7 linked regions of the Homo sapiens genome follow. The protein of the gene in region 6 purifies or fractionates together with the protein of the main gene of each other region. This does not show direct contact. Each region holds a gene or a part of one and is shown on either strand. Other genes may lie near its edges. The genes, in order: HBA2, UBR2, CELSR2, EEF1A2, UBR1, NXPH2 and CELSR1.

Region 1 (2,546 bases), on a different chromosome or scaffold from region 6:
CACTGACTGGGCTGCTCTCAGAGGGTCACCGTGACACAGGAAGTGTGAGTAGGGCCAGCACCCTCACTCCAGCCACCTACCCTCTGGCAGGAAGGGGTGGGAATGAGAGAAATGTTCTGGCACCTGCACTTGCACTGGGGACAGCCTATTTTGCTAGTTTGTTTTGTTTCGTTTTGTTTTGATGGAGAGCGTATGTTAACTGGGTTCAACCAGGGAGATTTCAAAGGAGGGTGGCGATGCTGGGACTCCCTGAGTAGAACCCTGGATGCCTCTCTCCTCCCCAGCTTCTGAGCCACTGCCTGCAGGCCTGGCACCTCTCAGGACAGGGGATGGTTCAGCACCTTCTCTTGAGCAGGCCCACCTCAGCTTCCCCTCCCATACTCCCTGCAGTTCTCCCTCCCCAGCCCCATGCAGCTGCAGAGAGGTCCTTGGTCTGAGACAGGTAAACACCTCCATTGTTGGCACATTCCGGGATAGAGAGAACCCAGGCACACACAGGCTGCTGCCCACTCAGACTTTATTCAAAGACCAGGAAGGGCCGGTGCAAGGAGGGGAGGAGGGCCCGTTGGGAGGCCCAGCGGGCAGGAGGAACGGCTACCGAGGCTCCAGCTTAACGGTATTTGGAGGTCAGCACGGTGCTCACAGAAGCCAGGAACTTGTCCAGGGAGGCGTGCACCGCAGGGGTGAACTCGGCGGGGAGGTGGGCGGCCAGGGTCACCAGCAGGCAGTGGCTTAGGAGCTGTGCAGAGAAGAGGGTCAGTGCGGCCCAGGCCCGCAGCCGCCGCCTGCGCTACACCTCCCGCAACCCGCGTGATCCTCTGCCCTGAGAGGAAGGCGCCATCTCGCCCCTCGACCCAGATCGCTCCCGGCCCGCCGCTCACCTTGAAGTTGACCGGGTCCACCCGAAGCTTGTGCGCGTGCAGGTCGCTCAGGGCGGACAGCGCGTTGGGCATGTCGTCCACGTGCGCCACGGCGTTGGTCAGCGCGTCGGCCACCTTCTTGCCGTGGCCCTTAACCTGGGCAGAGCCGTGGCTCAGGTCGAAGTGCGGGAAGTAGGTCTTGGTGGTGGGGAAGGACAGGAACATCCTGCGGGGAGAAGCAGAGTGAGGGGTGGGGTTTGGGTCCGGGGCCAGGACGGTTGAGGGTGGCCTGTGGGTCCGGGCGGGCGAGGAGCCCGGGTCGGAGCAGGGGAGGGAGCCTCACCTCTCCAGGGCCTCCGCACCATACTCGCCAGCGTGCGCGCCGACCTTACCCCAGGCGGCCTTGACGTTGGTCTTGTCGGCAGGAGACAGCACCATGGTGGGTTCTCTCTGAGTCTGTGGGGACCAGAAGAGTGCCGGCCCGCGAGCGCGCCAGGGTTTATGCTTGGGGCGCGGGGGCACGCCCGGCCGGGCGGCGCTCATTGGCTGGCGCGGAGCCCGGGGCGCGGCCTGGACCGCAGGGGAGTCCCGGGCGGGGCCTGCGCGGGGCCGGGCGGCGGGCTCGGCCTCCCCTGGGGGTGCACGCGGGGCGGGGGCCAGGACGTCTCCACCCTCCACCCGCCACTCCACTCCCGCCCATCCCGCTCGCCCGGGGGCAGGGCGGTAGCGGCGCTGGCGGGGCCGGCCCGTTGGGGTCGGGCGCTGTCGGCTCGTGCACCCCGGAGCGCAGCGCCACCCTTTCCTTTCGGGCGCCGGAGCGTCCCTAGCGAGGGAGAAAGTCAGCCCGCACCCCCGCCCCGGCCTGGCACGCGCTGGACGCGCATCGACTCCAGCGGGATCGGGGAACACACGGGCGAGCGAGTGCGAGCCGGAGGGCTTCGCCCAATCCTGGGGCGGAGAGGAATGCGCGCACCCGGACGCCCTGGCCCATAGGAACTCAAAAGAATTTCTGCGCAGAGCCCCTCCTGCTCTCCAGCCTCGCTTCCTGCAGCTCCCTTTCCCTCTGGCGATAGTCACTAGTGTGCTTGAGTGACAGGCACCGGGAAGGAACAAACACCAGGACGCAAAAAGCACGGGGCTGGGCTGGGGGCGGCTCCAGATTCAGACTCCTCTACCCGGGGTTGTGGGGTGGCGCGTGGGGTGGTGGGTGCTGGCTAAGCCCCAAGTCATGGACTCACAGTTTGTGTGACTGACTCTCCCACTGGCCTAGAGGTCGTGGTTCACTGTGACACCCCCAGCTCTCCAAATGCTATCTGATGGAAGACTTGCTAGGTAAATACTGGTTGTAAACAGATAAACAAACTTGGCTCTGGGTAGGGAAAGGACAGGGGAGAGAAGGCCCCTGTGGTTGCAGAATGTAGGTGAGGGGATGTGGGGTGAGGAAGGAAGGGGTGGACTTGGCGAGGGGGAGGGTGGGAGGTGCAGGAGTGCCAGTGGGTGCATCCCTGCTCATGAAAAGTGATGGTTTGGCCAGGCTCGGTGGCTCACGCCTGTAATCCCAGCACTTTGGGAGGCCAAGGCGGGTGGATCAGCTGAGGTCGGGAGTTCGAGACCAGGCTGACCAACATGGAGAAACCCCGTCTCTACTAAAAATACAAAAATTAGCTGGGTGTGGTGGTGCACGCC
Region 2 (3,500 bases), on a different chromosome or scaffold from region 6:
GTAACCAACATTTGTATTCAGTTCCAAATAGAATGAAGTCTTATAGTACTGATATTTAAACCACTATTAGGAGGAAGTTATCCATTAAAAAATTGTGCACAAACTAGGAAATAGGTTGAATCGAGTCAAATTTGTGTCCCCTGATCCCTTTGAGACATTTGCCTTTTTCTGGCATTAATAGTACAGCACAATTAAACAGACATTTATTGAGGACCTAATACGTATAAGAAATTATCAAGGTACTGGGGGGATGACTAAGCTATGGATACAACCTATGCTCCAGAGGAGCCCACACTCATGTCATGCCTCTGCTTCAAACCCTGAAATGGCTTACACCTTGCCCAGAGATGTCACCAGCACACAGCAGGCCCCTGGATTCTCTCACCTGTGCACAACACTCCAGTGACACGCGCCTCCTTGCCTTGAGCAGACAGGCACATTTCTACCCCAGGAACTGTGCAGAATGTTCTGAGTAGAATGTTCTCCCACTTCTTTAGGTCTTTACTCAGAAGTCATGTTCTTAGGAAGCCTTCCCTGATCTACTAAAATTAAATCTCAAATTTAGCTCCATAGCTGCCATTTCATATTCCCCTTCCCTGCTTTATTTTTTCTCCTTAGCCTATATCACTATCTAAATTCTTGTCAGTCTTGCTTGTCCTCTCTCTCATACAAAACAAGCTCCATCCATAAGGGCAGAGATCTTTGCACTGTGGACTACTGCATCCTCAATGCCTGGTACATAGTAGTCACTAATCACAAGCTGGCATGTAGAGTTGTGATAATATGTATAAGTGGAGGTAAAATCCAAAAGCCATGAGGACATAACAGAAAGAGTAATTCTGACTGGATTTGTTCAGAAAATCAGAGAAGTTTCACATTAGTGGGAGACATGGAGAAAGTAGAACAGAACTGTCACCTATGGTTGAGGGAAGAGGAGTGGGAATGGTAACAATAAAAGAACCAACACAGAGTTGGCATGGACCAGATGTGAGATGTGAGGCGACAAGGAGCTCCACGTTTCTGGAATGAATCACACGGAACAGTAGTCTCAAAATTCCTGGCAATATAGTAGTTTCCTGTGACACCCTAACAGTCAGATACTGAGGCAGATCCAAAGCTAAAAAGCCCCTGCAGGTCCTTACCTCAGGAAGATGCCCACTCCAGAGCCACAGGAGTAGGTGTGAGCTGTGCAGGCTCCTACATCCTCCCCTTCCAGTTCAGTCTGGCAGCAGTAACTCTGGGAGCACAGCAGAGATCCGCACACAAGGCACAGAGTTGGGGCTCTGCTCTTATCACCACCTGATTTCGGGCACCTCCAAGGGATAAAAAACCCACAAGTCATTGATCTAAAGAGTGGCTAAAGAGCTAGTGATGAAAAAACCAGCCCAGAAAAGAATTCTGCAATATCAAGTAAAGCCAAAGAAGTGTATATCCTACAGTCTATGCAAGTTTATTCCTAGAATCTGGAATAGGAAACATCTTGCACATATATACAAAGACCATGTACTGGAAACACTCAAAAGAATCAGTAACTGGAGAAAAAAAAATAAATAAAATCATCAATAGGAGAAAAAGATAAACGGTACCACTGCCATATAATAAAATACTATGGAGCAATGAAAAATCAATAAAGTTATAAACGTCAATACAGATAAATCTTAGAAACAATGCTGAATGAATGCAAAATTGGCTGGGTGCAGTGGCTCACGCCTGTAATCCCAGCACTTTGGGAGGCAAAGGTGGGTGGATCAACTGAGGTCAGGAGTTTGAGACCAGCCTGACCAATATGGTGAAACCCCGTCTCTACTAAAAATACAAAAATTAGCCAGGCATGGTGGTGTGCACCTGTAGTCCCAGCTACTTTGGAGGCTGAGACTGGAGAATCACTTGAACCTGGGAGGCGGAGGTTGCTGTGAGCCAAGATCACACCACTGCACTCCAGCCTGGGCAACAGAGTGAGACCCTGTCTCAATAAATAAATAAATAAATAAATAAATAAAATAAAATACAACATACAGCTCTCCCTCTCCCTCTCTTCTCTCCCTCTCCCCTTTGCACAGTCTCCCTCTGATGCCGAGCCGAGGCTGGACTGTACTGCCGCCATCTTGGCTCACTGCAACCTCCCTGCCTGATTCTCCTGTCTCAGCCTGCCCAGTGCCTGGGATTGCAGGCGCGCGCCGCCACGCCTGACTGGTTTTTGTATTTTTTGGTGGAGACGGGGTTTCGCCGTGTTGGCCGGGCTGGTCTCCAGCTCCTGACGGCGAGTGATCTGCCAGCCTCGGCCTCCCGAGGTGCCAGGATTGCAGAGGGAGTCTTGCTCACTCAGTGCTCAATGTTGCCCAGGCTGGAGTGCAGTGGCGCGATCTCGGCTCGCTACAACCTCCACCTCCCAGCCGCCTGCCTTGGCCTCCCAAAGTGCGGAGATTGCAGCCTCTGCCCGGCCGCCACCCCGTCTAGGAAGTGACGAGCGTCTCTGCCCGGCCGCCCAGTCTGAGAAGTGAGGAGCCCCTCTTCCTGGCCGTCATCCCGTCTAGGAAGTGAGGAGCGTCTCTGCCCGGCCGCCCATCGTCTGGGATGTGGGGAGCGCCTCTGCCCCGCCGCCCCGTCTGGGATGTGAGGAGCGCCTCTGCCCGGCCGCGACCCTGTCTGGGAGGTGAGGAGTGTCTCCGACCGGCTGCCCCGTCTGAGAAGTGAGGAGCCCCTCCGCCCGGCAGCCGCCCCGTCTGGGAAGTGAGGAGCGTCTCCGCCCAGCAGCCGCCCAGTCCGGGAGGTGGGGGGCAGCCCCTACCCGGCCAGCTGCCCCGTCCGGGAGGTGGGGGGCAGCTCCCACCCGGCCAGCCGCCCCGTCCGGGAGGTGGGGGGCGCCTCTGCCCGGCTGCCCCGTCTGGGAAGTGAGGAGCCTCTCTACCTGGCCGCCACCCCATCTGGGAGGTGCAACCAACAGCTCATTGACAACAGGCCGTGATGACGATGGCGGTTTTGTCGAATAGAAAAGGGGGAAATGTGGGGAAAAGAAAGAGAGATCAGATTGTTACTGTGTCTGTGTAGAAAGAAGTAGACATAGGAGACTCCATTTTGTTCTGTACTAAGAAAAATTCTTCTGCCTTGGGATGCTGTTAATCTATAACCTTACCCCCAACCCCGTGCTCTCTGAAACATGTGCTGTGTCCACTAAGGGTTAAATGGATTAAGGGCGGTGCAAGATGTGCTTTGTTAAACAGATGCTTGAAGGCAGCATGCTCGTTAAGAGTCATCACCACTCCCTAATCTCAAGTACCCAGGGACACAAACACTGCGGAAGGCCGCAGGGACCTCTGCCTAGGAAAACCAGAGACCTTTGTTCACATCTTTATCTGCTGACCTTCCCTCCACTATTGTCCTATGACCCTGCCAAATCCCCCCCTCCGAGAAACACCCAAGAATGATCAATAAATACTAATTAAAAAAAAAACATACAAAATAACAATACATGCTGCTCAAGAATAGAAACTTATATAGTT
Region 3 (3,500 bases), on a different chromosome or scaffold from region 6:
ATCAGTTATGGGCACTGTGTGTGGAGTCTTGGGCTGCTTTCTGCCTGGAGGGAATATCCCGTCAAGGAATCATTAGGCAGATATACCAGGTATACAAGAGCTCTGTGCCAGCTGAGCATCCTGGTGCGGGGAAGTCTGAAACGGAGAGGAAAGTAGAGCCTGATGACATAAATCTGGGCAGGCTTCCTGGAGCAGGTGAGCTAGGGCAGGTTAGAAGACTCAGAGGACTGTGGGCTGGTGTCTGGGTGGGAAGGAACAGCCTGTGCAGCAGCTTTGAGACGAGAGCAGGAGGAACAGAAGTGGGTGATGACAAGCAGGCTTGCTGGTGAGAGCTAGTGAGAATAAGCAAGTGATGAGGCTGGAGGGTAGGTGGGCAGTCGGCTGAGGACATGGCTGAGATGGGGGTCTGCTTTCAGCCTTCCCGGCTTCAGCTGAGCCACCGCTGGTACAGTCAGCCACCGCAAGTAGGTACAACACAGATGCAGAATTTGTTCCCATGTCCCTTGCCTACTCCCACCCCACCCCAGAAACATGGGCTCCTGCCCCGTTACTGCTAGGGTAAGCATTTGCTTTTTATATCTAGTTGGGCTCCCCCTGCTATGTGGTTTTGTTTGTTTGTTTGGGACAGAGTCTCACTCTGTCACCCAGGCTGGAGTACAATGGCGCGATCTCGGCTCACTGCAACCTCTGCCTCCTGGGTTCAAGCAATTCTCCTGCCTCAGCCTCCTGAGTATCTGGGACCTCCTGAGTAGCTGAGATTACAGGCACCCACCACCACGCCCAACTAATTTTTGTATTTTTAGTAGAGACGGGGTTTCACCATGTTGGTCAGTCTGATCTCGAACTCCTGACCTCGTGATCCACCCGCCTCAGCCTCCCAAAGTTCTGGGACTACAGGCGTGAGCCACTGCGCCCGGCCCCCTGCTATGTTTTAAAGTCCGTTTATTCTTTGTGGAGACTGAATAGATTGTCATCCACATCTCAGTGTTTTCTGAACACCTACTATGTGTAAGGCATTGTAATAAATACAAATATGAATATGCCAGTAGCTCATGCCTGTAATCCCAGTGCTCTAGAAGGCTGAGATGGAGGATCACTTGAGGCCAGGAATTTGAGACCAGCCTGGACAACACAGCAAGACCCCATCTCTACACACAAACAAAAATTAGCCAGGCATAGTTGTGAGCACCTGTGGTCTCAGCTATTTGGGAGGTTGAGGTGGGAGGATCGCTTGAGCCCAGGAGTTCGAGGCTACAGTGAGCTATGATCGTGCCACTGCTCTCCAGTGTAGGCGACAGAGAGTCTGTCTCTTAAAAAAAAAAAAAAAAAGACTATCCCTTCTTGCCCTGTAAAGCCATTTCCTCCTTCTCCAGGCCCCAGCTTTCATTTTTTAGCTAAATAAAATTCATTCCCATGTGTATGTGCATTCAGGTGTGTATGGTATTTCTGGGCTTAGGGTGTGTGGGTGGAATGAGACACCAGCAAGTGTGTTTTAGTGCTTAGCTGTTTATAAGTGAGTGTGTTGCCTGGGGGCATAGCAGGCATTTGGGTGTAATGGTTGAGCCAAGTGGGTGATGAGTAGCTAGAGGCCCTAGGACCAGAGAAGAGACTGACTCAGTGGGGCTCTGGGGTCTCAGAGTGGAGAGCTGCCCAGGCCCTTCTATCTCTGCCTTCCGGTCCCCCACCCCGACTCACCCTGTCTCCAGCATGGGGCAGTGGGTGATGATGTCACTGGTTAACGTGGCTCAGCTGGATTTCCTGGGGTGGGGCCCCCCAGGCTACCCACAGCAGCCCAGAGAGTTGGGCGGGAAGAATGCTTTGTGTTGGATGTTGCCATGGGGATAGCAGGTCTGCGCGCCCAAGCAGCCATGGGGCTCAGTGGGAGGGGGACTAGGTGGCCCACTGACCCAGTTTACCCACTCCCCCCCACCCCCGCCAACTCCCTGCTGCTGTGGGGGAGTGGGGAACACAGCCATGGTTGCGATTATCGTGGTGTTGAGGTGTAGAGGCTGAGGGGGCAGGGGGATGATTTTTGTGGGTCTCAGGATGCTCTGGGCCCTGTAGAAAAGTATGAAAAAGACAACATAGGGTTCCCGCGCAGGCAGCACAGACTCTGGGGGAAGGGAGCAGGAGCGGTGGCTTGGGCAGGGAAAGGTGCACAAACATTAAGAGGTGTGCCGTGCATCAGCGACAGAAGGTTTTGGGAAAGGATGCAAAGAGAACTGCAAATCTCATCCCCTGAGCCCTGAAGGAGTGATTGGCCCACACGTGACATACCTGGCTCAGCACCCTTATGCCAGTTGGAAAGGAGAGCCTTTCTTGGTGGGTGGTGCAGGAATATGCAGGCTGAATTGCAGCCCCAGGCTGGGTCCTGACTGTGTCCCTCTCCACAGACGGCGTACACAGCGTGACCGCCCAGTGCGCGCTGCGTGTGACCATCATCACCGATGAGATGCTCACCCACAGCATCACGCTGCGCCTGGAGGACATGTCACCCGAGCGCTTCCTGTCACCACTGCTAGGCCTCTTCATCCAGGCGGTGGCCGCCACGCTGGCCACGCCACCGGACCACGTGGTGGTCTTCAACGTACAGCGGGACACCGACGCCCCCGGGGGCCACATCCTCAACGTGAGCCTGTCGGTGGGCCAGCCGCCAGGGCCCGGGGGCGGGCCGCCCTTCCTGCCCTCTGAGGACCTGCAGGAGCGCCTATACCTCAACCGCAGCCTGCTGACGGCCATCTCGGCACAGCGCGTGCTGCCCTTCGACGACAACATCTGCCTGCGGGAGCCCTGCGAGAACTACATGCGCTGCGTGTCGGTGCTGCGCTTCGACTCCTCCGCGCCCTTCATCGCCTCCTCCTCCGTGCTCTTCCGGCCCATCCACCCCGTCGGAGGGCTGCGCTGCCGCTGCCCGCCCGGCTTCACGGGTGACTACTGCGAGACCGAGGTGGACCTCTGCTACTCGCGGCCCTGTGGCCCCCACGGGCGCTGCCGCAGCCGCGAGGGCGGCTACACCTGCCTCTGTCGTGATGGCTACACGGGTGAGCCAAGGGAGGGGACTCATGGGCCAGCCCTGGAAGGCTGACTGTGTGGTGCAGGCACAAATCAGGACAAATGCTGGCGGCTGCCTCATTCTCTTCCCGAGTGAGGTGCAGCTACACTGAGAGGTCATAAATCCGGCCTGCTCCCTGACAGCACCCCACTGAGGAAGGCAGTGCAAGGAGTGCTTCTCCCTGCTGTGCACAGGACACACAGGCAGTGCCATTGTGGGCAGAGCTGGCTCCAGAGCCAGTCGGCCTGTGTTCGTGTATCAGCTTTGCCGCTAGTAGCTGTGTGACCTTGAACAAGTTACTTAACCTTTCTGGCCCTCGGTTATTTGAAATGGAGATAATGACCGTACTTAGGTCATAAGTTGGTTGTGAGGATTAATGTAATTAATTTGATACTTGGAAACAGCTGGTGGCATGGAAGGTGTTGGCCTTGATTTAAGGGAACGCTGA
Region 4 (3,500 bases), on a different chromosome or scaffold from region 6:
GGATGGATGCATGGATGGATGGATGGAGGGATAGAGAGAAGGATGGATGGGTGGGACAATCAATGGATGGATGGATGGATGGATGGATAGAGAGAAGGATGGATGGGTGGGGAGATGGATGGATGGATGGAGAGGTGGATGGATGGATGGATGGATGGATTGATGGACAGAAGGATGGATGGGTGGGGAGGTGGATAGATGGAGAGATGGAGGGATGGTTCGATAGAGAGAAGGATGGATGGGACAATGGATGGATGGATGGATGGAGTGAAGGATGGATGGGTGGGGAGATGGATGGATCGATGGATGGATGGATGGATAGATAGATGGATGGAGAGGTGGATAGATGGATGGGTGGATGGATGGACAGAGGATGGATGGGTGGGGAGGTGGGTGGATGGATGGATGGATGTGGGATGGACTGTCCCACAGAAAGTGTGTGGTAAGGGGAGAGATTGGAGACAGCCCAGTCTTGAGATGCCTTGTAGGGGCCCCTGGTCTAGGGCAGGCAGAGCTGGCCAGGCAGGAGCTCCAGCACAGCGCCCTTGCTCACCGCCAATCTTGTACACGTCCTGCAGCGGCAGGCGCAGGGGCTTGTCCGTGGGGCGCGTGGGGGGCAGGATGGTGTCCAGGGCCTCCAGCAGGGACACGCCGCTTGCGTTGCCCTCCTTACGCTCCACCTTCCAGCCCTTGAACCACGGCATCTGGACCAAAGGGAGAAAATCAATCCGTTAAGAGACATTGGTGGCCTCCCCACCCTCAGGCCTCCCCAGGGTGCTTCCAGGAGTACTGCTGTTCAGGCTAAACTTGCCTCGTGCCCTTTGAGATGAGGAATTTCCCCACCCTGCTCCTCCCCAGCCCATAGCCCCAGCATCACAGGGACTCTGGGAAGGAGATCCCTCTTAAAAGGAGGAGGACAAAGAGGGAAAGCACCCTTCCCAGCCCAGGCTGCTCAGGAGTTGCTGACACTGTGAACAAATCCCCAGTCCAGCCCCAAGTCCCCGAAACCCCGGGCCCCTGACCATCAGCTCCAGGCAGGGCAGATGACTTGACTAGGAGGATGCTGAGTCTGGCCAAGGGCCAGGCCAGGGACAGAGCTGGAGGAGCCTCGCCCCACCCTAGCTTCTGGACACCGTGCTGCCTCCGAGCTTGGCCCAGCCTTGTCCGGAGCTTCTCCTAGTGTGGCCCCCACTCCCATCCCATGAAGCCTCCCTCTGGGCCACCTGCCACAAACAGGGAGCAGGGGAGGGGGCCGGCAGCACAGTGCCCCAGCCCCCCAGGGCCTGTGTAAGCACGAGCCACCTAGCAGCTCAGGCCAGAGGGGAGTGCAGGGTCCCTGATGGCTGGAGGCCTCCCTGGGGAGGGGAGAGTGGCGTTCGCCACATGATACCCCATGAGGAAAACGCCATCACAGGTAAACAACACCGAGCCTCGTGAGATGGAGGCGGAGCTGGGGGAGTCCCTCCCAGTTCTGTCCCCAGACCTCAGCTCCAGGCTCAGTGCTGCTGGTCTGTCTCCCTGCTGTCTCTAGACTCCACACCTGCACCCTCACTGTGGGCAGCGACAGTGCTGGCAGAGCCTAGTGGTGGCCATTCTGGGGTCTCCTCTGGCTTGGAGAACCCTGGGAACAGTCTCAGGTTCTGCAAGTGTCTCCACGCGTCACCTCCAGCCAAGGCAGAGTCCCTGGGCTACAGACTGTTCGCACGTTGAGCTCCCAGGTGACCGGCCAAGAGCCAACCCTTGGCCATCCCAGCAAGCCCAGAAGCATGCACACTTCCCAAAGCCCAACCCTGCTCCAAGATCCCAGGGGAGGCAGCCAAGGAGGCCCCCACGGCCCAGCCCAAAGCCCCTGCACGGTGTCCAGGACCAGGACAATGGCCTGGCAGAGATGAAACCGACCGCCCCCATGGCAGGGCTCTGGAGACCAAGCACATGGGCCTGGTGCTGGAGGCCGCTGCCCCTGCTGTGTTGACATCGTAGATGGGCCCTGGCCCCGGCCAGCCGCGTGGGAGGCTGAGTGTAGGAGCAAAGCCCGGTGCTGAGGGGCATGGGGCTCCCCGCCGGGCCCTGAGCCAGTTAGGGAAACCCAGCAGGTTTCGAGGGGAACCTGCATTTCCCGGGGACAGGCCCTCGACCTCCCCGTGCCACCTGCCGGTGCCTCGCTCTGGGCCAGGGGGTCCAGCCAGCTCCCGTGGCCCGCCCCGCCCTAGCCGCCACTCACGTTGGGGGAGGGCTCCAGCATGTTGTCACCGTGCCAGCCGGAGATGGGCACAAAGGGCACGGTGGCCGGGTTGTAGCCGATCTTCTTGATGTAGGCGCTGACTTCCTTGACGATCTCGTCGTAGCGCTTCTCGCTGTAGGCCGGCTCTGTGGAGTCCATTTTGTTCACGCCCACGATGAGCTGCTTCACACCCAGCGTGTAGGCCAGCAGGGCATGCTCCCGCGTCTGCCCATTCTTGGAGATGCCCGCCTCGAACTCGCCCACGCCCGCCGCCACGATCAGCACTGCGCAGTCCGCCTGCCCGGCAGGGGACACAGTGAGCCCTGCCCCGCCTGCCTGGCAGGGGACAGAGCGAGCCTGGCCCCACCTCACTTCCAGGCCTCTCCAGGCAGCGGGCTGGGGCCTGAGCAGCCCACTGGGGCCTTGGGGAGGGAGGCATGGGGGTCCCCACTTCAAGGGCAGCATGGGGGCTCATCGCCAGGCCCTGGGTCAGGGGACCGAGGTTCAGCCCTGGCTCCACCACCAGTGGGCTGTGTGTCCCTGGACAAGTCACTCAGCCTATCTGCTCCTGTTCCTCACTTGAGGACGGATAGAAGTCACAGTTATCAAAGCAGTTTGGAGGTGGTGGCATGTGTCCTGCTGTCTGCAGGGTGCTGTGTCTGGGGTGTCCGTGCGTCTCTGTGAGTGCCCTGAAATGTCATACAGTCTACACCTGGCGGGTGGCACCTCTGCCCACTGCTCACTCTCCCCATCCTGGCCTCCAACCCCTCCATGTATGAAGGTGTGTCCACGTCCCCATCTGCCCCCATCTATCTGGGGACTCTGACACTGGCTGGATGCCTTCACAGGCACTGGTTCAGATGCCAGAGCACTGGATTCATCCTTAGGGGGGCTCTGAGCCAGACTGGGTGAGGGTGGCCCAGGTGAGGGGTCCCCTGCCCTCACAGGAAGCACAGGAGACCCTACCATCCCAGTGACCCCAGGGGCCCCCAGTGTCCCTTGAAGGGTGCAGCGGCCTCTCCCCCAGCCCCGCCTGCTGTGCCCTGCTCACCTGGGATGTACCCGTGATCATGTTCTTGATGAAGTCGCGGTGGCCGGGGGCATCGATGATGGTGATGTAGTACTTGGTGGTCTCGAACTTCCAGAGGGAGATGTCGATGGTGATGCCGCGCTCACGCTCCGCCTTCAGCTTGTCCAGCACCCAGGCATACTTGAAGGATCCCTTCCCCATCTGGAGCGGGTGAGGGTCACGGCTGAGGGCGGGACCCGGGACCCAGGA
Region 5 (3,500 bases), on a different chromosome or scaffold from region 6:
CTATCTACCAAATTAGATTGCAAGGGTATACAGATCAAGGACTCCTTTGAATCTTTTATTTTGCCTTATATAAGGCAATCATACTTGCCAGTCATACTTGTTGATTTCCTCTGATTTTGAGTTGCAGTCAATTCTGTAAGACTTAAGATAGATATAGGACCCAAGATGGAATTGGAAGCAGAGAAAGAAATAATGATTGTTGTAGGCAAATGACACTGTGGGATAAGATACCTGCATTACCTGGATTTTATATGCAGACTTAAAAGTAACTAAGACATTTGTTGTATGTCTTATCCTTCAGCAGTGATGGCAACTCAAGATGTTCTCTTCTAAAACTCTTCAGATATAGAATATTGGACCATATGTGTGATCTGAAATGAAATTTTGTTTTCTTATACAAAAGCTAATCTCCCTACTTAGATGATTTTTTTTGTACACCATGGTTACCCCTTAAACTTTGTAGGAATTCTGGAGGGTAAAGTATCTAACTTAAAGTAGGTTAAGTATCCAACTTTGTGCCTTACACATAATAGATGCCTATTATGTGACTGAGTATATTCCTATTTTTGTTCTCCCAGTATATCAGGGTTGTTTTGCAGCTGTTATGTACCAGTATGGGAAAGAAGTTATTTGCAGCCAGCATCCATTCTGTTTAAGGCTGGATTCAATCTGATTGGTTGGTTTTTCTGGGTCATATCAGTTGTTAAATACTTTGAATATATTCCCTGCCCAATACCATTAGAGTGGAAGCTGCTAAAGATTGCCCCAGATTCTGTTTGGAGAAAGGATAAACTATACCATTGCAGTCCTCTGTTTTTTGTTTGTTTGTTTGTTTGTTTTTTAACCTATGTGTATATTTTAATAGTTTCCACTTCTATCTCTGCTAAATTGAGTAGGTGAATTTTTACTTGATTTGTTGTTTGTTATTCTCCTTCTAAGATATTTTTGCTGATCATAATATCTTGCCTTAATAAATAGGAATTATATTACTTGACATTTTATAGATAGAAACAAACCTGCAGCAGTTATTAAAATTGGGATTTTTTAAAGGTCTTTAGTAGTGATTTATAATTGATTCTCTACTTATATATTTCAGTATTATAAACAACTGCAGAAAGAATATATCAGTGATGATCATGACAGAAGTATCTCTATAACTGCACTTTCAGTTCAGATGTTTACTGTTCCTACTCTGGTATGTATTGATTATTCCTTTTCAGTCTTTCTAAGTAAAACTTGTTTTGCTTTGTAAGAATTCCACTTAATGTTGAATCAAATTAGAACAATGTTAGAATCACTAAGTTGGGCTATGTGAATACTTTAGTGCTACCCAAGGACTAGTTAACTAGGCGCTGCCTTGGTTCAGATGTCCTCGTCAATGCAGATGACACCTAGAGCTGGTTTCTTACTTTCTAGAGTAACTTATGAACACTGCCTTTTCAATACCAAAAATATTTTATTTTTAAGTTATTGTTTGTAGGCAGATAGAATAAGATAAAACTAAGAAGTGGGAGGGTGTGCCTGTCAAGCATTTGGGAGAGAGGGTGCTGCATAGGCCTGGGAGGAGAGTGGAAGATTCTGCTTCCTTTGTATACCACTTCTTTTCTTTGTTTTTTGTTTCTTGAGACAGAGTCTTGGCTGGGTTGCCCTGGCTGGAGTGCAATGGGACGACCTGGGCTCACTGCAGCCTCCGCCTCCCGGGTTCAAGCGATTCTCATGCCTCAGCCACCCAAGTAGCTGGGACTACGGGCAGGCACCACCACGCCTGGTTGATTTTTGTATTTTTAGTAGAGACGGGGTTTCACCATGTTGGCCAGGCTGGTCTCAAACTCCTGACCTCAGGTGATCTGCCAGCCTTAGCCTCCCAAAGTGCTGGGATTACAAGTGTGAGCCACCGCGCCCAGCCCTACTTCTTTTCTTGTCTGGAATTAGATAGTTATCCAAACTTGGTTAATTGTTTCTACTTTACTTTTTCAAAAGGATGGAGAGGAGAGTTTAGATTGGGGTAAGGAGGAGATTTCAGAATAGATCGTAGTGTGCTAGAAGTCATGAAGTATATCTTTGTTATACTTGCTCATTGTGTGATTTTTTTTTTTGAGATGAAGTCTCTCTCTGTCACTCAGGCTGGGGTGTAGTAGCACGATCTCGGCTCACTGCAACCTCCGCCTCCTGGTTCAAGCGATTCTCCTGCCTCAGCCTCCTGAATAACTGAGATTACAGGCATTGCCACCACACCTGGCTAATTTTTGTATTTTTTGTGGAGATGGGGTTTTGCCATGTTGACCAGGATAGTCTCGAACTCCTGAGTTCAGGTGATCCGCCTGCCTCGGCCTCCCAAAGTCCTGGGATTACAGGCATGAGCCACCACATTACTGATGATAAACATTTATCTAGATAACCTGTCTAATGGGCTTGGAGTATCCAGATAGGTGTTGTCTAGTTACTGAGGAGTAGGGAATTTTTTCTTTTAGAAAATAACTTCTTAGTAGTTGCTATTCAGTGAAACTAAGGACTGTGTTTAACATTCAATAACAAACATTTATTAAAAATGACATACTGACTAACCAAATGAATGAATAAATTAAGTCCATACCACAATGAGTTAATGCTAAAGAAAATATTCTTGAAATATTCCGCAGGCTCGACATCTTATTGAAGAGCAGAATGTTATCTCTGTCATTACTGAAACTCTGCTAGAAGTTTTACCTGAGTACTTGGACAGGAACAATAAATTCAACTTCCAGGGTTATAGCCAGGACAAATTGGGAAGAGTATATGCAGTAATATGTGACCTAAAGTAAGTTGTTCAAGTCAAAAGGTGAGGGCACCTGTTAAACTCAGTGTGCTTATTTGCTGTGTCTTATAAGTAATCCTGTGATCATTTTGGTTATCCAGAATTCTCTTTATAATGATGGCAAGTACAAAGAACTGTTACTGCCTCGCGTTAATAAATGTCTTCAGTGAAGGCTTCTTATTGAGTTGTAAAACCTGGTTAGTAAAGAAGGTATTGAGGAGAGGCCCATTACAGGAACTTGGGATCTCCTGGGGTCACCAAATGCATTGCCATTGTAATTACCATACTTTTCATTCACTTCCACTCACACACTTTGGTTCTGTCCTTCCTATATAGTCTCTTTGTGCATAGTTTCAGACAATCTATTGACATAAATTTCTTTCTTTTTTTTTTTGAGACAGGGTCTCGCTGTGTTGCCCAAGCTGGAGTGCAGTGATGCAAACATGGCTCACTGAAGCCTCAACCTCCTGGGCTCCAGTGATCCTCCTGCCTCAGCCTCCCATGTAGCTGGGACCACAGGCACGTGCCACCATGCCTGGCAAATTTTTTATTGTTTTGTAGAGACGGAGTCTCACTTTTTGTTGCCCAGGCTGACTTGGACTCCTGGGGTCAAGCAGTCCTTCTGCTTTGGCCTCCCATAGTGTTGGGATTACAGTCATGAGCTACTGCGGCTGGCTGTTAACATTTTTTTAACTCCTTTTTGCTA
Region 6 (3,500 bases):
TACTTAGTAAAGTTTATGTTAAAGTTGGAAACATGAGAACATGCTTAATTTCAGAATTATTCAATAATATTTTGAAGATTCTATACAGTTCTCTAGGAGAGTAAATTTTAATATGAGACATAATGTTCAATAAAAAGAGTCAAATATAAGATTATTTGCAGATGATATGATTGTCTAGACATAAAATCCAGGGGAATCAAATAAAAAATATTACAACTAATAACTGAGTTCAGAAATAGAACAGATACAAACATAAACATACAAAAATAAATAGTTTTCCTTACATTCCAGCAAAAATGAATTTTAAAATGTCAGCCATAAAAAAGATATCCATAACAACCTAATAATGTACCAGATATTCAGGAATAATAAAGAACAATTGTGCGTGAGCAATATTAAAAAGAAACTATAAAATTTAAAGGCTGTAAAAAACTGAAACACAGGAAATTACTTAAAAAGGCAATTCACAAAATAAGAAATACAAATGGTTATTAAATGTGAAAACATGCTTTATATACCTGATAAGTAATACAGTATACAATACATGTTAAAAACAATGAAGTACTTTCCTTTAATAGATTGTCAAAAATTTTTTTTTAAATACCAGTATTCAGGTAGTGTGATACAGGCATGCACATACAATGTAATACCTTATATTGGTACAATCATTTCAGAAAACATTTATAATTATCAAAATTCAATATATACATTCTCAATTGAACCAACATTTTCAATTCTAGGAATTTGTGTTACAGGTATACTTACAACTATATTAAAGAATTCAAAACAATTTAAATATTAATTAGAAAGATTAAATATATTATGGCATATCAATGCCATGAAATACAGTGAATCTTTAAAAATATAAGTTGCTCTATCAAAGTAGCCAAAATATGCTATTGCATTAAAAAAGCTTGTTACAGAACATGGTACTGTGCATGATATAATTATTATAAAAGCATACATATCCATAATATCTGGAAAGACATACGTTAAACTATTAATAATGCCCTGAGTATAAGGTATGAGGTGGCAGAAAGCAGGCAGGGGTGAGGATGGCTACTTAAAGAAATTCTGAGTAGTACTAAAAAAAAAAAAAATTAAACAGAAATCTTAGATGGAGTTCCCCAGAAGGACAGGCTGAAGCAAGTATTTGAGGGCTATTGATTTAAAACAGAAGCACTTCCGGGGAAGCCTTGCTAAGGGAGCAGGGCAGCTGGTGAAAGAATGGGAAAAAAGTCATGGAAGTGCGTGATCTCAGGCAAAGTCTTGCAGAGGGTAGCTTCAGCCTGCTCCTGCAGGGAAGACCGAGATTATCTGTTTCACCTCAGTTATATCTGGGAGCTGTCCAGAGTCGGGGCAAGGCAGCTGGGCTTTCATACTCTGACATCTGTCAGTCACTAGTCAAGAGCTTTCCAGAGGAAGTGAATGGCACCTGTGGCTCTGAGTGCATTCTGGCAAAGTGCCTCCCCAAAAGAAATCTGGGTGGAGAACCAATAACATCCACTACAATATTACTTTTATAATAAAATACATATTTTCATTAAAAGAAAGAAAAAGAGAGCAAAAGCCATGTGCTACTAGTAAAGTAAAATTATATATTAATGCTCTCAAATTCTACACAAGTCTGGGCACCTACTAGACAGGTTCCCTCACCCACCTGCTTGTCCTCATATTCCTACCTGTCCACTAGAAAACCAGGGTTTAGCAGCCCGTGAACCCACACTTTCTCTCTCCTTTTTATCTTTTCCATCTGGAGTGGTATAGGTGAGATCCTGAAAAGTTAGAGGAACTCTCAAAACCTCTGCTGATCCTAACTGGAGCCACATTACTTGGCTACTAACTTAACATGAAAATGGCATTAAAGCTGAGACCCTTGGCAACTGGCCTCCATGAGGTTAAATTTTATTATTTATTTATTTAGAGACAGAGTTGCACTCTTATTGCCCAAGCTGGAGTGCAATGGCACGATCTTGGCTCAACACAACCTCTGCCTCTTGGATTCAAGCAATTCTCCTGCCTCAGCCTCCCAGGTAGCTGGGATTACAGGCATGCGCCACCACGCCTGGCTAATTTTGTATTTTTTAGTAGAGACGGGGTTTCTCCATGTTGGTCAAGCTGGTCTCGAACTCCCGACCTCAGGTGATCTCCCCACCTCGACCTCTCAAAGTGCTGGGACTACAGGGGTGAGCCACCGCGCCCGGCCCATGAGGTTAAATTCTAAATAGAACTCCAGATTAAAGAAATGCCCCAAGAATTCATTTGTTCTATTCAACTTATTTGACTTTATGGCAAAGCTAAGATGAATGAATTAAGGTTTCTAGCTCAGTGGTCACTGAGCAGAGTGGGATGTTTCCTAGAAATGTCCCTCAAGTCCATCACTCTGGGTGTCAGTGATGAGTACCTAGAAAGACAGCACTCATCATCAAAGTGGATGATTCGAATTTACAATCTGTGCAGTCTACAGTCTGTCTCTGAAACCTGTGGTGTGCTTTTGTTGCTTCACCTGTAAAATGGATGCAATAACTATCATTCTACTTACTTTTCAGAGCTGATGCACAGATTAACCACGAAAGAATTTTGCAAACCATGTAGTGCTTTACATCCTGTCACTTGTCTTAGCACAAAGGCTCCAAACATTAAAAATGGGATGGTGGTGACTTCAAGATCCAAATCCATGAATGTTGGAAGGCACTTGTTCAGCACAGATGTGTGTGGCCTTGCACATGTTGAGTGTGAGTTAACAGTAAAACATCCAAGTAAAACAGAACAGTAAGTTATGGAGACACCGGCTTGGAGCCTGAGCAACAGGGTAGGAACTGAGATACAAGCTGGAGAGTCAGCAACACAGGAGCAACAGGTAAATTCGAGACTACGGAAAACACGCTTTTGAAAACTTCATCTTTTTTTCCATTTCCATAGCCATATTCCTCAAGCCAATCCCAATCGTCTCCTGTTTGAACTATCCAAGTGCAAAACTTCATTAATACATATTCCTGTTATCATTACTACAAAATGTTAAATGATGCTTTATGGTCCCTAGTCGTTTATTGTATGCATTATCCATTGAAAAGATCATACAGATTTTTATACTAATCAACCACTTTCAGTAGCTGTCTACACACACAAATGAGGAATGGAATTTGGGAATAGAAATCACATGTGTTTTTAACAGCCATACTACATAAGTGTTCTTTCCCTTTGAATAATATACATTATTTCTTAAATTACTGTTTTGGGCGAATAAATATACCTGCTATATAACTTAAATTGATAAGATTTAAAAATTATCATTATATATGATAAAGCTTGAAAATCATAATCTTGCATATTCTTGCATGAAAAGACTTACACAATTTATGTAAATTTTGTTTTTAATGACCTTAGAATCACTTTATGTGGCAAAAAAGCAGCAATATCTCAAAGTCAAGTTTCATTTGTAGAGACATTTACGTGCTTACAGTTGGATTGAATCCCAGGAATAGTTAGTCTTTCTGTTT
Region 7 (3,500 bases), on a different chromosome or scaffold from region 6:
AGACGGGGTTTTACCACGTTGGCCAGGCTGGTCTCGAACTCCTGACCTCAGGTGATCTGCCCGCCTCGGCCTCCCAAAGTGCTGGGATTACAGGCGTGAGCCGCCGCGCCTGGCCTGGATTTTGATTTTTTTATTGTTTCATGCTTACGCTCCAATGAGCATTTCCTTTAAGTGTCAGGTTGGTGCTCAAGAAGGTTCAGGTTCTGGGGCATTTCAGATTTCAGGATTAGGATGTTCAGCCTGTACCTGAGCACTTGAACAAAACAACCTGCTGTCACCAACAGGACCTGGCACCAGAGAGCACTCGGAACACTCTGGCCCAGATCTTCAGTGCGCAGGTCCTGCGATGCCCGCAGCGGGGCCCTCCCCTCCCTGAACGCTGGGGACTCCGAGGGCAGCAGCAGGTTTCTAAGCGGTTTTACCTTTTTCTTCAGGTGGTCTGAAGAAGTCGGCTGGGAAGGAGACGGAGGACTCCAGCTCCCTGGGGAACTCTTCATGGATGGTGTCGAATCGCGGGACCCTGGCTCCCGTAAAGTTGAACTTGTCAAAGATGTCGACAGCAAGAACTGGGGGGACAGTTCCTTTAATCAGACATAACTCCCAGGGCTTTCTTGAACCCCTGCTGTTTTCAAAATGACCACAACTGTCACACTGACGCTGGCTGGCCATATTTATTTATTTATTTTTGAGGTGGAGTCTCGCAGTGTCTCCCAGGCTGGAGTGCAGTAGCGCAATCTCAGCTCACTGCAACCTCCGCCTCCCAGATTCAAGCAATATCTCCTGCCTCAGCCTCCCAAGTAGCTGGGATTACAGGCAGGCACCACCACGCCTGGCTAATTTTTTGTATTTTTGGTAGAGATGGGATTTCATCATGTCGGCCAGGCTGGTCTCAAACTCCTGACCTCAAGTAATTTGCATGCCCCGGCTTTCCAAAGTGCTGGGATTACAGGCATGAGCCACCACGCCCAGCCTATTTACTTATATTTATTTTTGAGACAGGATCTCACTCTATCACCCAGGCTGGAGTGCAGTAGCACAATCTCAGCTCACTGTAGCCTCGTCCTCCTGCGCTCAAGCGATCCTCCCACCTCAGCCTCAAGTAGCTGGGAATACAGGAGCATGCTACCACACCTGGCTAATTTTTATTTTTTATTTTTAATAGAGACAGGGTCTCACTATGGCGCCTGGCTGGTTTCGAACTCCTGGGCTCAAGCAATCTGCCCATCTCAGCCTCCCAGTGCTGGGATTACAGGTGTGAACTACCACGCCCAGCTGACTGACCATCTTTAGAACAGAACTGACTTCCAACTTCCTGCATCCCGCCTGTACTTACACCTGTCTACAGTGAGCCTGGAGTGAGGCGGGGTCCTCGACACCCACCCTTCTAGAGTCTCACACCTGAGGGTTTGGAAGCCCTGCCGGACCCCCAAGATCATGGCCCAACATCTCCCTAGCCCGGGACCTGTCCCCTGGGAGCCACGGGTACGTCATCACAGACTGTCTTCCCAAAGGCTCCATTTACAGATGAGGAAACAGAGGCCTACCTGCCGAATATTTTTTTTTTTTTTTTTTTTTGAGACGGAGTCTGGCTCTCTCGCCCAGGCTGGAGTGCAGTGGCATGATCTCGGCTCACTGCAAGCTCCGCTTCCCGGGTTCACGCCATTCTCCTGCCTCAGCCTCCCGAGTAGCTGGGACTACAAACGCCCACCACCACGACCGGCTACTTTTTTGTATTTTTAGTAGAGACGGGGTTTCACCATGTTAGCCAGGATGGTCTTGATCTCCTGACCCTGTGATCCGCCCACCTTGGCCTCCCAAATTGCTGGGATTACAGGCGTGAGCCACCGCGCCCGGCTTTTTTTTTTTTGAGATGGAGTCTCGCTCTGTCACCCATGCTGGAGTGCAATGGCGCAATCTCAGCTCACTGCAACCTCTGCCTCCCAGGTTCAAGTGATTCTCCTTCCTCAGCCTCCTGAGTAGCTGGGATTACAGGCATGCACCACCACACCTGGCTACTTTTTGTATTTTTAGTAGAGATGGGGTTTCACCATTTTGCCCAGGCTGGTCTCCAACTCCTGACCTCATGTGGTCTGCCTGTCCCGATCTCCCAAAGTGCTGGGATTACAGGTATGAGCCACTGTGCCCGGCCTCACAATCATTTTTCTAAGAGCATGGCCAAGGGGGGGCCGGGAGCCCACCTGCTTCACCCCATGGGGGCCTAGCTCTGGGGCACACCCCTGATGGTAGCAGGGTTCCACCCCCAACGCAGCCAGCGCCTTACTCATGTTGGCGGTGACGATGACGAAGGGCCGCAGGTACGTCCGCCGCACGTTGCGTGCCACGTTGCTGAAGTAGCCCTCGAGGCGCCGGAGCAGCTGTGCCGTGCCGCCCTCGCTCCGCTGGATCTGCTCCCACGCCGCCCTGGTGGCTGGGGCCAGGAGGGCGCTGCCCGAGTGGATGACGTCCTGGTCAGACAGACAGCACTCAGTACTCAGCCTGCGGAGGCCTGGCTCGTGGGACGGAGGGACACCTGCCCTGAAAGCCTTTGCTTGCCTAGTGGGCTCATTCATTCATTCCAGCCCTACACTTTAGACTGTGCTCTTTAATATTAGTTGTTTTTTGTTTTTTGTTGTTTTTTGTGTTTTTTTTTGAGACACACTTCCGCTCTTGTCGCCCAGGCTGGAATGCAGTGGTGTCATCTCGGCTCACTGCAACCTCCGCCTCCTGGGTTCAAGGAATTCTCTTGCTTCAACCTCCCGAGTAGCTGGGATTACAGGCACACATGTGCCACCACACCCGGCTAATTTTTGTATTTTTAGTAGAGACGGGGCTTCACCATGTTGGCCAGGCTGGTTTTGAACTCCTGACCTCAGGTGATTCACCTGCCTCGGCCTCCCAAAGTGCTGGGATTACAGGCGTGAGCCACCACGCCTGGCCTAGTTCCCAAATATTTTTTCAAAAAGTTTATCTTAAGAGGAATAAAAAAATGTTACTAAGCTCACAAAGTATATTAAAATCTAGAGAATTAAAGATGCTTCATATTCTTAGCTTAATTTACTAGATGTACAAGCACTGCTTAAATGCTTGGAAGGTCTGTTTGCTAGCCGAACAATTGAAATACAAAACAAAAAATCAACTACATGACATATATTAATTCCATTTAAAATACTTAGGGGAATTTCATGGTCTAAGTTTATAAATAGGATCAAACATTAATCAAAGTTGAATTCAAATAGATAAGGAAGTCTTTTTGTTTGTTTGTTTTGTTTTTGTTTTTTGAGACAGAGTTTCACTTTGTTGTCCAGCCTGGAGTGCAGTGGCACAGTCTTGGCTCACTGCAGCCTCTGCCTCCCGGGTTCAAGCAATTCTCGTGCCTCAGCCTCCCACCACCCCGCCCAGCTGATTTTTTTCATATTTTAGAAGAGACAGGGTTTCACCATGTTGCCCAGGCTGGTCTCGAACTCCTGGGCTCAGGCAATCTGCCCATCTCGGCCTCCCAA

Evidence for each region.
Region 1: the proteins of NXPH2 (region 6) and HBA2 purify together in Homo sapiens (affinity purification with mass spectrometry, with the first as the bait; 3 studies listed by BioGRID). This does not show direct contact.
Region 2: the proteins of NXPH2 (region 6) and UBR2 purify together in Homo sapiens (affinity purification with mass spectrometry; 2 studies listed by BioGRID and IntAct, with this or other methods). This does not show direct contact.
Region 3: the proteins of NXPH2 (region 6) and CELSR2 purify together in Homo sapiens (affinity purification with mass spectrometry; 3 studies listed by BioGRID and IntAct, with this or other methods). This does not show direct contact.
Region 4: the proteins of NXPH2 (region 6) and EEF1A2 purify together in Homo sapiens (affinity purification with mass spectrometry; 3 studies listed by BioGRID and IntAct, with this or other methods). This does not show direct contact.
Region 5: the proteins of NXPH2 (region 6) and UBR1 purify together in Homo sapiens (affinity purification with mass spectrometry; 3 studies listed by BioGRID and IntAct, with this or other methods). This does not show direct contact.
Region 7: the proteins of NXPH2 (region 6) and CELSR1 purify together in Homo sapiens (affinity purification with mass spectrometry; 3 studies listed by BioGRID and IntAct, with this or other methods). This does not show direct contact.

Annotation. Positions count from the first base shown.
Region 1 is NC_000016.10:171,665-174,210, reverse strand, and holds HBA2 (hemoglobin subunit alpha), read right to left. Parts: upstream 1,336-2,546; 5' UTR 1,299-1,335; coding exon 1,204-1,298; intron 1,087-1,203; coding exon 882-1,086; intron 740-881; coding exon 611-739; 3' UTR 501-610; downstream 1-500. UniProt on the Homo sapiens protein: Involved in oxygen transport from the lung to the various peripheral tissues.
Region 2 is NC_000006.12:42,686,029-42,689,528, reverse strand, and holds part of UBR2 (E3 ubiquitin-protein ligase UBR2), read right to left. Parts: intron 1,314-3,500; coding exon 1,143-1,313; intron 543-1,142; coding exon of another isoform or gene 521-542; exon of another isoform or gene 1-520. UniProt on the Homo sapiens protein: E3 ubiquitin-protein ligase which is a component of the N-end rule pathway.
Region 3 is NC_000001.11:109,256,039-109,259,538, forward strand, and holds part of CELSR2 (cadherin EGF LAG seven-pass G-type receptor 2 precursor), read left to right. Parts: intron 1-2,393; coding exon 2,394-3,041; intron 3,042-3,500. UniProt on the Homo sapiens protein: Receptor that may have an important role in cell/cell signaling during nervous system formation.
Region 4 is NC_000020.11:63,492,584-63,496,083, forward strand, and holds part of EEF1A2 (elongation factor 1-alpha 2), read right to left. Parts: intron 3,453-3,500; coding exon 3,273-3,452; intron 2,519-3,272; coding exon 2,222-2,518; intron 705-2,221; coding exon 554-704; intron 1-553. UniProt on the Homo sapiens protein: Translation elongation factor that catalyzes the GTP-dependent binding of aminoacyl-tRNA (aa-tRNA) to the A-site of ribosomes during the elongation phase of protein synthesis.
Region 5 is NC_000015.10:43,054,039-43,057,538, reverse strand, and holds part of UBR1 (E3 ubiquitin-protein ligase UBR1), read left to right. Parts: intron 1-1,096; coding exon 1,097-1,195; intron 1,196-2,639; coding exon 2,640-2,797; intron 2,798-3,500. UniProt on the Homo sapiens protein: E3 ubiquitin-protein ligase which is a component of the N-end rule pathway. Recognizes and binds proteins bearing specific N-terminal residues that are destabilizing according to the N-end rule, leading to their ubiquitination and subsequent degradation.
Region 6 is NC_000002.12:138,770,391-138,773,890, forward strand, and holds part of NXPH2 (neurexophilin-2 precursor), read right to left. Parts: intron 1-3,500. UniProt on the Homo sapiens protein: May be signaling molecules that resemble neuropeptides and that act by binding to alpha-neurexins and possibly other receptors.
Region 7 is NC_000022.11:46,384,121-46,387,620, forward strand, and holds part of CELSR1 (cadherin EGF LAG seven-pass G-type receptor 1 isoform 1 precursor), read right to left. Parts: intron 2,466-3,500; coding exon 2,282-2,465; intron 567-2,281; coding exon 423-566; intron 1-422. UniProt on the Homo sapiens protein: Receptor that may have an important role in cell/cell signaling during nervous system formation.